Linked DNA regions of Homo sapiens. The protein of the gene in region 3 interacts with the protein of the main gene of each other region in a pairwise test. Each region holds a gene or a part of one and is shown on either strand. Other genes may lie near its edges. The genes, in order: MYOZ3, KRTAP19-7 and ATXN1L.

Region 1 (3,753 bases), on a different chromosome or scaffold from region 3:
GGGTCTTGCTCTGTCACTCAGGCTAGAGTGTAGTAGAAGGATCTCGGCACACTGCAACCTCCGCCTCCCAGGTTCAAGCGATTCTCCCACCTCAGCCTCCTGAGTAGCTGGGATTACAAGTGTGTGCCAAGAAGCCCAGCTAATTTTTGTATTTTTAGTAGAAATGAGATTTCATCATGTTGGCCAGGCTGGTCTTGAACTTCTGACCTCAAGTGATCCGCCTCCCTCGGCCTCCCAAAGTGGGATTACAGGCATGAGCCACTGCGCCCGGCCTTAATACTGTTTCTTAATTTTAAGAAAAATAAAAATCATTGCTTGTGTTGTTTTTCCAGCAGCCTGGGACCAGTGGGAAGAGGAGAGTGCTTGCCTCTGGGGTGGAAAGACAAACCTTGAGCCAGGGCCTGAGTCCCAGCCAGGAAAGCATTTCTGCCTGGACCACCCCAGTTTTGGTGGCAACAGCCAGGCCTCACAGGAACAGGCTGGGTGGTGTCCAAGCCATGCAAGGCCCACAGTCAGGCCCTTGACTGGGAGCCCAGGACCCTGGAAGCTGAGCACATCTTGGCCACCCAAACTGCTGTTTCTCTTCTCTATGCCTCAGTTGGTCTTTCTCCCTCAGAAGAGGTCTGGATGCAGGGCTCCCTAAGAGCCTCTTTCTGCTGGTGGGAATGTGCCTTGCTGTCATACATGAGGCATGAGATCAGTGGGAGATGCAACCTGAGTGGCCCAGCCTGGAAGCTGCCTGCCAGGACTGAATGTCTGCTGCAGGTTTCAAATGACTGGGCAGGCAGGGTCTGAGGGCCCAGGAGGAGATAGGGCAGTCCTGCCTGCCAGGGAACTCCAGAATGTCTGTTAATGGCTCGTGACTCACACAGCGCATGCTAAGCCCAATTCTTCCCATCAGGAAGTCTCTGCCTATTCAGATATTTGAGGGCAGTCACATCCCTCTGGAGCTGTCTCTTCTCAAGGCAGATCACCCCCAGTTCCTTCAGCCCTTCCTCATATGTGCTGATTTTCCAGGCCTAGCTAGGCTCTGGCGCCCACCCGTCTGTCTTAGACAGACCCAGTCTCCACGTGTGGTCTGAGCAAATGCCAGAAGAGCAGGACCGTGGCGTCCTCTCTGTGGACTCCCCTTTTCCTCACTAAATGCAGCCCAAACCAGAGGAGCATATTCAAAAATAGCACCAGACCAAGGAAGCCAATGCAGTTAACATGCACTCCTCAGCCCAAGGCCTTCCCCCAGTGCCAAGCTCCTGTCTTGATTCCTATGGTTTGTTTTCAGGCCCTCAGTGCAGAATGGTAAATGTATCCCTTTCAAGCTCTCCCCTGTCCAAACTTCATCTCAGCTGTAAATAATAATCATAATACGCCGGGGGCGGTGGCTCATGCCTGTAATCCCAGCACTTTGGGAGGCAAAGGCGGGTGGATCACGAGTTCAGGAGTTCGAGACCAGCCCGGCCAACATAGTGAAACCCTGTCTCTACTAAAAATACAAAAAATTAGCCGGGCACGGTGGTGGGCGCCTGTAATCCCAGCTACTAGGGAGGCTAAGGCAGGAGAATCGCTTGAACCCAGGAGGAAGAGGTTGCAGTGAGCTGAGATTGCGCCATTGCACTCCAGCCCGGGTGACAGTGTGAGACTCCGTCTCAAATAATAATAATAACAACAACAACAATAATAGCTATTGTTTGTTGCAAGTGTCTTACTTGCCAGAAACTTTACCTATGGCTTCTCGTGTCATCTCCATAGCAACTTTATGAAGCAGGTACTATAAACCCCTCATTTTACAGGTGGGGCAATGGAGGCTCAGAGAGGTTAAGTCACTTGCCCAAGGTCAACACGGGCAGGCCTGGGGTCTGCATTCAAGTCCACGTGGAGGCCTCACGCTCTAAACCCATATAGGCCACTGCGCTGTGGCCCTCACTCTGGCGTCCAATGTTTCACTGCCACTCTCCACTTTGGGGCAGCCTCAAAGCTACCTTGTTGGCCTCTTCTAGGCCATTGGTGAAAGGAAAAGCTGAGCTGGCCTCGAACTGCTGAAATCTGGGGACCCCTCAGAGAAGGACACAAATCTAGATGTTCATCAAAGAGGTAGCACACAGCAGCCATGGAGAACAAGGCACTGGGCTCTGGAGTCAGACAAACCCAGACCTGAATCCCGGCCCTGCCGGTGCTTCCTTGTTTTGTGGCTTTGGCCGGGTTGTTCATATTCCTGAGCCGCAGCCTCTTCATCTGCAGAACAGGAAAACTCATAGCACCCGCCCACCATGTCCTGGAGAATATCCAAGATGTGCGGCACCTTCACTCTTCATTTCTCCCACGTTAACTGAGCACCTACCAGGTGCGGAGGCGCTGTTCCAGCCAGAGCTCAGTCAATGAATAGAAAGCGCTGGGGACAGAGCCTGGCCTGCAGAAAGTGCTCAGGAAACGCAGGCTCCCGCTGTGGCTGTGACTGGCTTCCCGCCCCTCCCGGTCTGTCCCCCGGGCTGCCCGCCCCGCCTTACTTGTTGAAATTTCGGTAGTCGTTGGGGCTGGGGGTGTGACTTCGGCCATCGCTCTGGTAGTCCCGGTAGCTGACGAACTCCTGCCAAGGGCAGCGGTAGCCCTTGGAGATGGCGGTGTGGTTGAACTTCTCTGGCGGGACGCCCTTCAGCGGCTCCGCATAGCCTAGGGGCGCGGGGGGAAGGGAGCGCCTCCGTTCTTCCACCCTCAGCCCCCAACCCCACCTCGCCCCACCCCCATTCCGCGGACGCGGTTGGAGGAGGGAAGATCGGAGTTAGGGGAGAGGACGGCGGGAATGGGAAGCCACAGTTGCTCCAGCACAGGAGACCCCTCCCCATCCCAGGAAACACGGAGGACTGCAGTGAGGAAGCCACGAGTTCGCAGCGCGGGTTGGTCTTGGCCTTGGCTGACTCGCTGTGTGACCTGGGGCGCGGCGCCCCTCCGGCTCGTGGTCTGGCGAGGGGAGTGCGCGCGTGCGCGTGTGTGTTGGGGAAGGGGGCGGACTAGCCTTCTGGGTGCTCTTCCTGCCCCATGGGGAGCACACCCATGCTTCAGGCCCCCCAGCCCTGGTCCCGGGACCCGAGGAGGCCACTCACCTGGCGCCAGGGCGCTGGGGCTGGGGACGCACCCAGCAGGGGCGGCTGCAGGGTGGGCGCCCTCGGGACCCCCGAGTGAGGCCCCGGGTGAGGCCGGGAAGATGTGGAGCTCCGAGCGGTAGTTCGGCCCCTCAGGGCCATTGGCATTGGCAACCTGGGCACAGGGGCGGGTTCTCAGAGGCCACCGACGACCTCCCGCCCCCAGCCGCGCTCCCCTTCCCCCAGCTTCCCTTCCAGGGAGCTCCCCTCCACGCTCACCGTCCCCGACTCCGCTGTTCCAGTCACCTTCCTCCTGGCGCTTCCGGCCAGCATCTGGGAACGAGGGGGTAGAATAAACCGCAGAGAAGCTCAGCGGGGCAGGGGACCAGGGTTCTCCCTCCACCAAAAAAAAAGGTCGGGGGGAGGCAAGAATCCTAACGCCCATCATCGGGGAACAAGGATGAGTTACTAGTTTACAACGCTAAACCCAGTGCCTGGGACCGAGAAATACTCGATATATGTTAATTGCTATTGTAATGCCGAGTCCGGGCAAGATACTTAATTTCCCTGAGCCTCAATGTCCTTCTCGATAGAATGAGGATGATGGTGATGAAGATCTCTTCCTCAGAGGGGTCTATGAGCATTAAATGAGATACCTGCAAAGTGCTTAGCTAGCATT
Region 2 (2,862 bases), on a different chromosome or scaffold from region 3:
ATTCCTAGATTGGAGGTTCTGGGATCTTCTATTCCTGATAATAATATTTTCCCTACCAAGCAAATATATCTGGTTTTATCTGGATTGTGACAAGTGCTAAAGATAATAGTCTTTTTAAAAAATTACCTAAAATTATATTGAACCTACATTTTCTTAACTGAAGCAAATTCAAATACAGCAATTCTTTACCATTAATAATTCCCTTCAACTTGTAGTTTGCAAAGTTCCCTCAGGATGGAAATATGTTAAGTACCTAGTTATGTAGCACTTTTAATAAACTGGTAAAGGAAATAAGTTTAATCAGTATAAATGAAGTTCAAAAATAACCTGTATTCTTTGAGGTTCCTGGATAAAGAAAATGTGGCACATATATACCATGGAATACTCTGCAGCCATAAAAAAGGATGAGTTCATGTCCTTTGCAGGGACATGGATGAAGCTGGAACCACCATTCTCAGCAAACTAACACAAGAACAGAAAAGCAAACACCACATGTTCTCACTCATAAGTGGGAGTTAATCAATGAGAACACATGGACACAGGGAGGGGAACATCACACACCAGGGCCTGTCAGGGGGTGGGGGACTAGGGGAGGGACAGCATTAGGAGAAATACCTAACATAGACGATGGGTCGATGGGTGCAGCAAACCACCATGGCACATGTATACCTATGTAACAAACCTGCGCGTTTTGCACATTTACCTCAGTACTTAAAGTGTATATATACATACATACATGTATATATATATATATACATATATATATATATATAGCAGGAGTAGCTGAGCATATATGCTTACTGGTTTCATGTCATTTGCTTTTATTTATATTGATGATATGAAACAAAAATATAAGGCAGCTGGGCATTGTGGGAGAAGATATACCCTAACCTGCAATCTTTGATTTCAAATGCATCTGCTGAACTAAGGCCAATAATCAAAGTACTTAGGTTTTAGTCCTAATCTGCCACTAAGTTTCACTGTTGCGTAACTCTGCTTGTCTCTCTGAATCCATTTTTCTCATCAGTAACAAGAACACTGAAATAAATGATGACTCAAGTCTCTTTAATTCTATAATTATATGATCCTATGATAGTACGAAATTTAGAATCTAGACTAAGATTAAATTTGGGGAGAGGAAACTATTCATAAGGGATTGGCAGGGACTTTATGCACACTTTAATGGTATCTACTAAGCAGGCTGGCTCTACATGAAGCATAATATTTGAGAAATTCCTTTGACATTAATTTGTGACTCTTTTAAAAATTAAATATCATCATTCCACTATAAAATGTGGTTCCCAGCTGACTTTAAAAGCACATTGTATAAAGACATACATCATAGTTGATTGCCATTTCAGAGAACAATAATGTTTCAATTTTTGTGAATTCTTGGCAGAATAAAGATAACATCCTTGGCTTAGAAAAGGCTCAGCAGCCATGGACTGTCAAAGGAAAGAGTGCAATCAGAGGATAAATGTAATTGCATGAGATGCAATTTGAAGAATACTTGAAGCTATAGAGATTTGTTTATGGCATTTGAAACTCAGAAACTCATACATGTACAGTGAATATAAATGCAACTACATTTTATTAGAGGCAAAACACTTATCTAGAAATCCAAATAAAGCAGAAAATAAAACATGTTGTATAATTTCTAAATAACTAGCTTCATAAACAAGGAAGAGAGTGGGATGGGTGTTACAAAACAAGATAGTTGGCATAGTTTTCAGGTAACACGTTCTAAGGGATGACATTTAAAGGTGTGGCTTTCCACATGCATCAGAGTATATATAAATGTTCCTGTCCAGTCACAGTCACCAAACTGACCTACAACAGCTAACCACTTCTGACAACATGAGCTACTCCGGCAGCTACTATGGAGGCCTAGGCTACGGCTGTGGAGGATTCGGTGGCCTGGGCTATGGCTATAGCTGTGGATGTGGCAGCTTCCGCAGACTGGGCTATGGCTGTGGCTATGGAGGCTACAGATACAGCTGCTGCCACCCATCATGCTATGGGGGATACTGGTCTTCTGGATTCTATTGAATAAATACTTGAAATATAGTCTTCTGTGAGATTCCCAATTCTTCCAAGAAACTTTATTCCATAACCATATGGAATTCCATATTCCATAACAAAACAGCTGCTTGGATCACCTGCCTTTTGACAATAGTGTGAAGAAAACTTGATCAACTAGATATTGGCATTTGATTAGTGATGTTCTCCAGATATTCACTTTTTTATTGGCTGGAGAGCCATTATACTCTAAGAAAGATTGTCTTTCAATATCTGATATCTAACCATGAACTTTTTCTCATGTGGTAAATGTGTTTTGAGCCTCAAATTTTTATCACAATAAATGTGCTGTGATGCATTAATATAATCAACCATGGTGATATTTTCTTCTTATAGATAAAAAAATTACCAATACGTTATATGTCACGATTATTTCTTCACCCTCCTCCTCCTCGTCATTCTTCCTGTCCCTTAAACCTTCTTCCTCCCTTTCCATCCCTTTCCTCTCCTTTATCTTCTTTTCTTTATCCCCTTCTCCTTTGTCTTCTTCCTCCTCCTCATCTTTAACATTCTCAATATCTATATTTTCTTGTCCAGGCAAACAGGAATTCTACACCAAAAGGTTAAAGATGCTTCTGTGGTGATAAACTTCTGCTTAATCTTTTAATTCACTATTTCTTGGAGAATATCTTGATAATTTCAGAGCAATATAATAAGAAAAGGTTTTAGCTTGCACATAGATTATAACATTGGAGAACAACAGTGTGAAGGAATTATATCAAAGTATTAACAATAGCTTTATCTAGGAGATGGGAATATGGTGGCTGGTGTAATAGTTATTCT
Region 3 (3,753 bases):
AATGAGCATATGTGTGTGTGTATGTAAAATTTTCTGAGTGACAGTATACCAAGTGCTGAATCAGGTATGAAAGAAACTGAAAATATTGCCTTGGTCCTCAGCTGGCTAACACTGGTGAAACAAAACTACCACTAAACCATCACTATGTGAATCTACACTTGCCAGAAACGCAAAGCGAGAAAGAATGGAGCCTTAACCTCTGAAAACAGAGAAGGCAGTACAGATGAGTGAGTGCTCTGAGAAACTGACTATCCTGTCCAAGTCCTATAGAACACTCTAAGCCTCAACCCAAACCGAATGCAACATTTCTCTCTTAAGATTGGCAAGGTGCAGGTGTACACAAAAGGTGGAAGGATAGGAAAACACAGTGGGAAAACAAATTCCTAATTCCACAAACACATATTATTACACAGTGGCATAAATAATGACTCTTTTCTCCACCAGCAGCTTTAATAACTGAAAAGCAGCTTGCTTTCTTCTTCATTCCCAACAGAAACTGGGGTCACACTTCAATCCCAAAATGATCCTTGCTTTCTGTAACGAAAACTTTAAAGAAAACCTGCCTCCAGGTCACCGAGAAGTTAGCAAACACAGGCTAGTAAAGGGACCGAAAGAGGCAAAAGGTCTGCAGAAAGGAAAACAAAGAGCCAAGCCTGTGCGCCAGGTTCCCACAACGCAAAACACACTTAAGAATCCGAAACCTCCGCCTCTCGAGAACCTCACTGAGCATCTCAAAGGGAAAACGCAGCTTGTGACCCCAACCGAGCTAACAGGCTGTTCAGGAGAGTTGCCAACGCTGCTAGCAGAGCCCGGAACCAAGCTCCTCATCACGCTTGGGTCGGAATCAAGGGGCTGAACCCAGCTGGAGACCCAAATTCTCTGCGGGCGAGAGGTGCGCCCGACAGAAAGGGAGAAGCTTGTCAGAGACTACGGTTATGGCTCCCAGTGGTCCCGCAATCCTTGATCCAACAAGGGTAGGGCTCGAAATTGGGAATTCTGCGTTTAGAGAGTAGGGGGTCCACCCTTCACCAAGGGGGCAGGGGCGAGGCCCTGCAGGCGACGCTTCCTTGTTTGGGGGCCCTTCCCGCCCCACAGACTCGGACACCTTGGCTCGCAGGCACACAGCCTCCGGGGCGCCGGGGCCTGAGGCCACCTTCCAGGACAGGCCAGAGAGAAGCGCGAGGGGGTCTAGGTGCGGCCTCTCCCCTCCGTCTGTCCACGGTTCATGGGCCCCGGCCCGCCGGAGCAACGGGCTCCTGAGGGCCACTTCCTCCGGAGCACCGACCCCAGGCCTGCCTGGCCCCGGCGGCCACCACTTCCAGGGACACTCACCAGCCCATTTCACAGCGCTTCCCAGGATCCACTCACTCGTCCCGGAGCCGCCGCAACCGCGGCCGCCGCCATCCCCGGCCCCGGAGCCGCCCCACACCCAGCGCCCCCCACAGCCGGGCGCCCGGAGATGGCGTCAAGCTCGTCCCGCCCCCGGCGCGGAGAGATTGCGTCACGGCCGGGGTGGGAGAGCAACGCCCAGGACTCCCCGGGAAGGGAGGGTGCCACACTGCCTTCGCGTCGGGCGTTCCCTCTGGTGGGTGAACAAACTCCTCTCCCTGGGACCGGGTCACGTGAATAGGGCTGGGCCCGGCCCCCTCAGCCTGACCCCACAATGACCCCGCAATCTTTCCACCTCAGTAAATTTTGGGGGTTCCCAAACAGAGCCCCGGGGCGTGGTCATCGGCGACCCCCCATTTCCTGGACTTCTTGTCCTGACTTGTGCAGCCCCTTCTGGGGAACTTCGGGGGACCCCGAGGTGACCTAGGCTCAGGAGAAAAGGAGATACCTCTTACCTCTTGGGGACCCAGGTGGAGATAGGAAGTCTTCTTTTTTTCTTTTCTTTCTTTTTTTTGGAGACAGTTTCGCTCTTGTTGCCCAGGCTAGAGTGCAATGGCACGATCTCGGCTCACCCAACCTCCGCCTGCCAGGTTCAAGCAATTCTCCTATCTCAGCCTCCCGAGTAGCTGGGATTACAGGCATGCGCCACCACACCTGGCTAATTTTTTGTATTTTTAGTAGAGACAGGGTTTCTCCTTGCTGGTCAGGCTGGTCTCGAACTCCCGACCTCAGGTGATCCCCACACCTCGGCCTGCCAAAGTGCTGGGATTACAGGCGTGAGCCACCGTGCCAGGTCAATAGGAGCTCTGTAAGTGTTGAGAAGTGGCCCCCGAGGGAGCTAAGAGTGAACCCCACTCAGGATCTAGGGGAAGGTGACAAGGAGTGGAACACCTGAAAGTTTAGAGAGAGCCCGGGGTTTAGTACAGTGAGAAGCAGCTTGGTTTAGTGGAAAGAGGGCTTGACTACTCAGTGAAATATTATTCATTACAAATTAACTAATTATTCATTACAAATTAACTGGTCAACTTCATAGTAACATGAACATCTGATTAACTTAAGTGAAGACAAAAGTGAGCGCCAGTTGAATTTATGTTTGAATAACAACTGTGTTTTTGTTGTTGTTTGTTTTAAAGTATTAGGTTGGTGCAAAAGTAATTGCGGTTTTGGCCACCGAAATGGAGACTTTCAGTTTCTTCAAACTCTGTTCAATAAATAACAATTGGGCCAGGCGCGGTGGCTCACGCCTGCAATCCCAGCACTTTGGGAGGCCAAGGCCGGCGGATCACGAGGTCAGGAGATCGCAGACCATCCTGGCTAACACGGCGAAACCCCGTCTCTACTAAAAATACAGAAAATTAGCCGGGCATGGTGGCGGGCACCTGTACTCCCAGCTACTCGGGAGGCTGAAGCAGGAGAATGGCATGAACCCGGGAGGCAGAGCTTGCAGTGAGCCGAGATCGTGCCACTGCACTCCAGCCTGGGCAATAGAGTGAGACTCCGTCTTAAAAAAAAAAAAAGAAAAAAAAAGATATGTCATTGCAGTTGCGTGTATGTGTGTGTGTGTGTGTACATATAATTTTTTTTTTTTTTTAGCCCTGTCGCCCAGGTTAGAGTGCAGTGGTGCCATCTTAGCTCACTGCAGCCTCAAATTCCTGTGCTCAAGCAGTCCTCCCACCTCAGCCTCTGGGGTAGGTGCGATGATAGGCATGCACTACCATGCCCAGCTAATTTTTTAAAATTTCTTGCAGAGACAAGGTCTTGCTATGTTGCCCAGGCTGGTCTTAGACTCCTGTGCTCAAGTGATCTTCCCTCCTCGGCCTCCCAAAGTGCTGACATTTCAGTCATGAGCCAACCACACCCAGCGTCGGTTGTATGTATTTCTGTGTATCTGTACAGAAAAGGAGTAGAACACATAACTAATTAACATTGGTTATTTTTGGGAAGGAAAGTGGAATTGGGTGGTGGTCAAAAGGCAAAGAAACAACTTATATTATTGTTTGAATATTTAGGAGAATATTATCTTAGAAATAAAAAAAGTAAGTTGAGATCCAGATACAATGCATGATCTCTAAGATTCTTTCTAGGGAAGCCTTAGATCTCAATTATATTTTCTCACCTGGATGGACACATAGGGCCATAAAAAATTATCAAGTACCACACAGACACACACACAGACACACACACACACGCACACATACACACAGCACAAATGGGAAAAAACATAGTGAAGTTACTGCTGTCATCTAAATCATCTGAGTGTTTTGCTTCATTAATATTAATATTGTTCATGACAGTCTCCTTCTCTCTCAGTTTGGCCAAGAAGGAAGTCCTGTGGTCACTCAGTGTGTCCGTTTTAGCACTAAC

Evidence for each region.
Region 1: the proteins of ATXN1L (region 3) and MYOZ3 interact in binary tests that used the Homo sapiens proteins (3 or more experiments, as listed by UniProt).
Region 2: the proteins of ATXN1L (region 3) and KRTAP19-7 interact in binary tests that used the Homo sapiens proteins (3 or more experiments, as listed by UniProt).

Annotation. Positions count from the first base shown.
Region 1 is NC_000005.10:150,671,251-150,675,003, reverse strand, and holds part of MYOZ3 (myozenin-3), read right to left. Parts: intron 3,408-3,753; coding exon 3,354-3,407; intron 3,250-3,353; coding exon 3,096-3,249; intron 2,889-3,095; exon of another isoform or gene 2,665-2,888; coding exon 2,502-2,664; intron 1-2,501. UniProt on the Homo sapiens protein: Myozenins may serve as intracellular binding proteins involved in linking Z line proteins such as alpha-actinin, gamma-filamin, TCAP/telethonin, LDB3/ZASP and localizing calcineurin signaling to the sarcomere.
Region 2 is NC_000021.9:30,560,285-30,563,146, reverse strand, and holds KRTAP19-7 (keratin-associated protein 19-7), read left to right. Parts: upstream 1-1,832; 5' UTR 1,833-1,857; coding exon 1,858-2,049; 3' UTR 2,050-2,272; downstream 2,273-2,862. UniProt on the Homo sapiens protein: In the hair cortex, hair keratin intermediate filaments are embedded in an interfilamentous matrix, consisting of hair keratin-associated proteins (KRTAP), which are essential for the formation of a rigid and resistant hair shaft through their extensive disulfide bond cross-linking with abundant cysteine residues of hair keratins.
Region 3 is NC_000016.10:71,843,684-71,847,436, reverse strand, and holds the start of ATXN1L (ataxin-1-like), read right to left. Parts: upstream 1,462-3,753; 5' UTR 1,333-1,461; intron 1-1,332. UniProt on the Homo sapiens protein: Chromatin-binding factor that repress Notch signaling in the absence of Notch intracellular domain by acting as a CBF1 corepressor. Binds to the HEY promoter and might assist, along with NCOR2, RBPJ-mediated repression.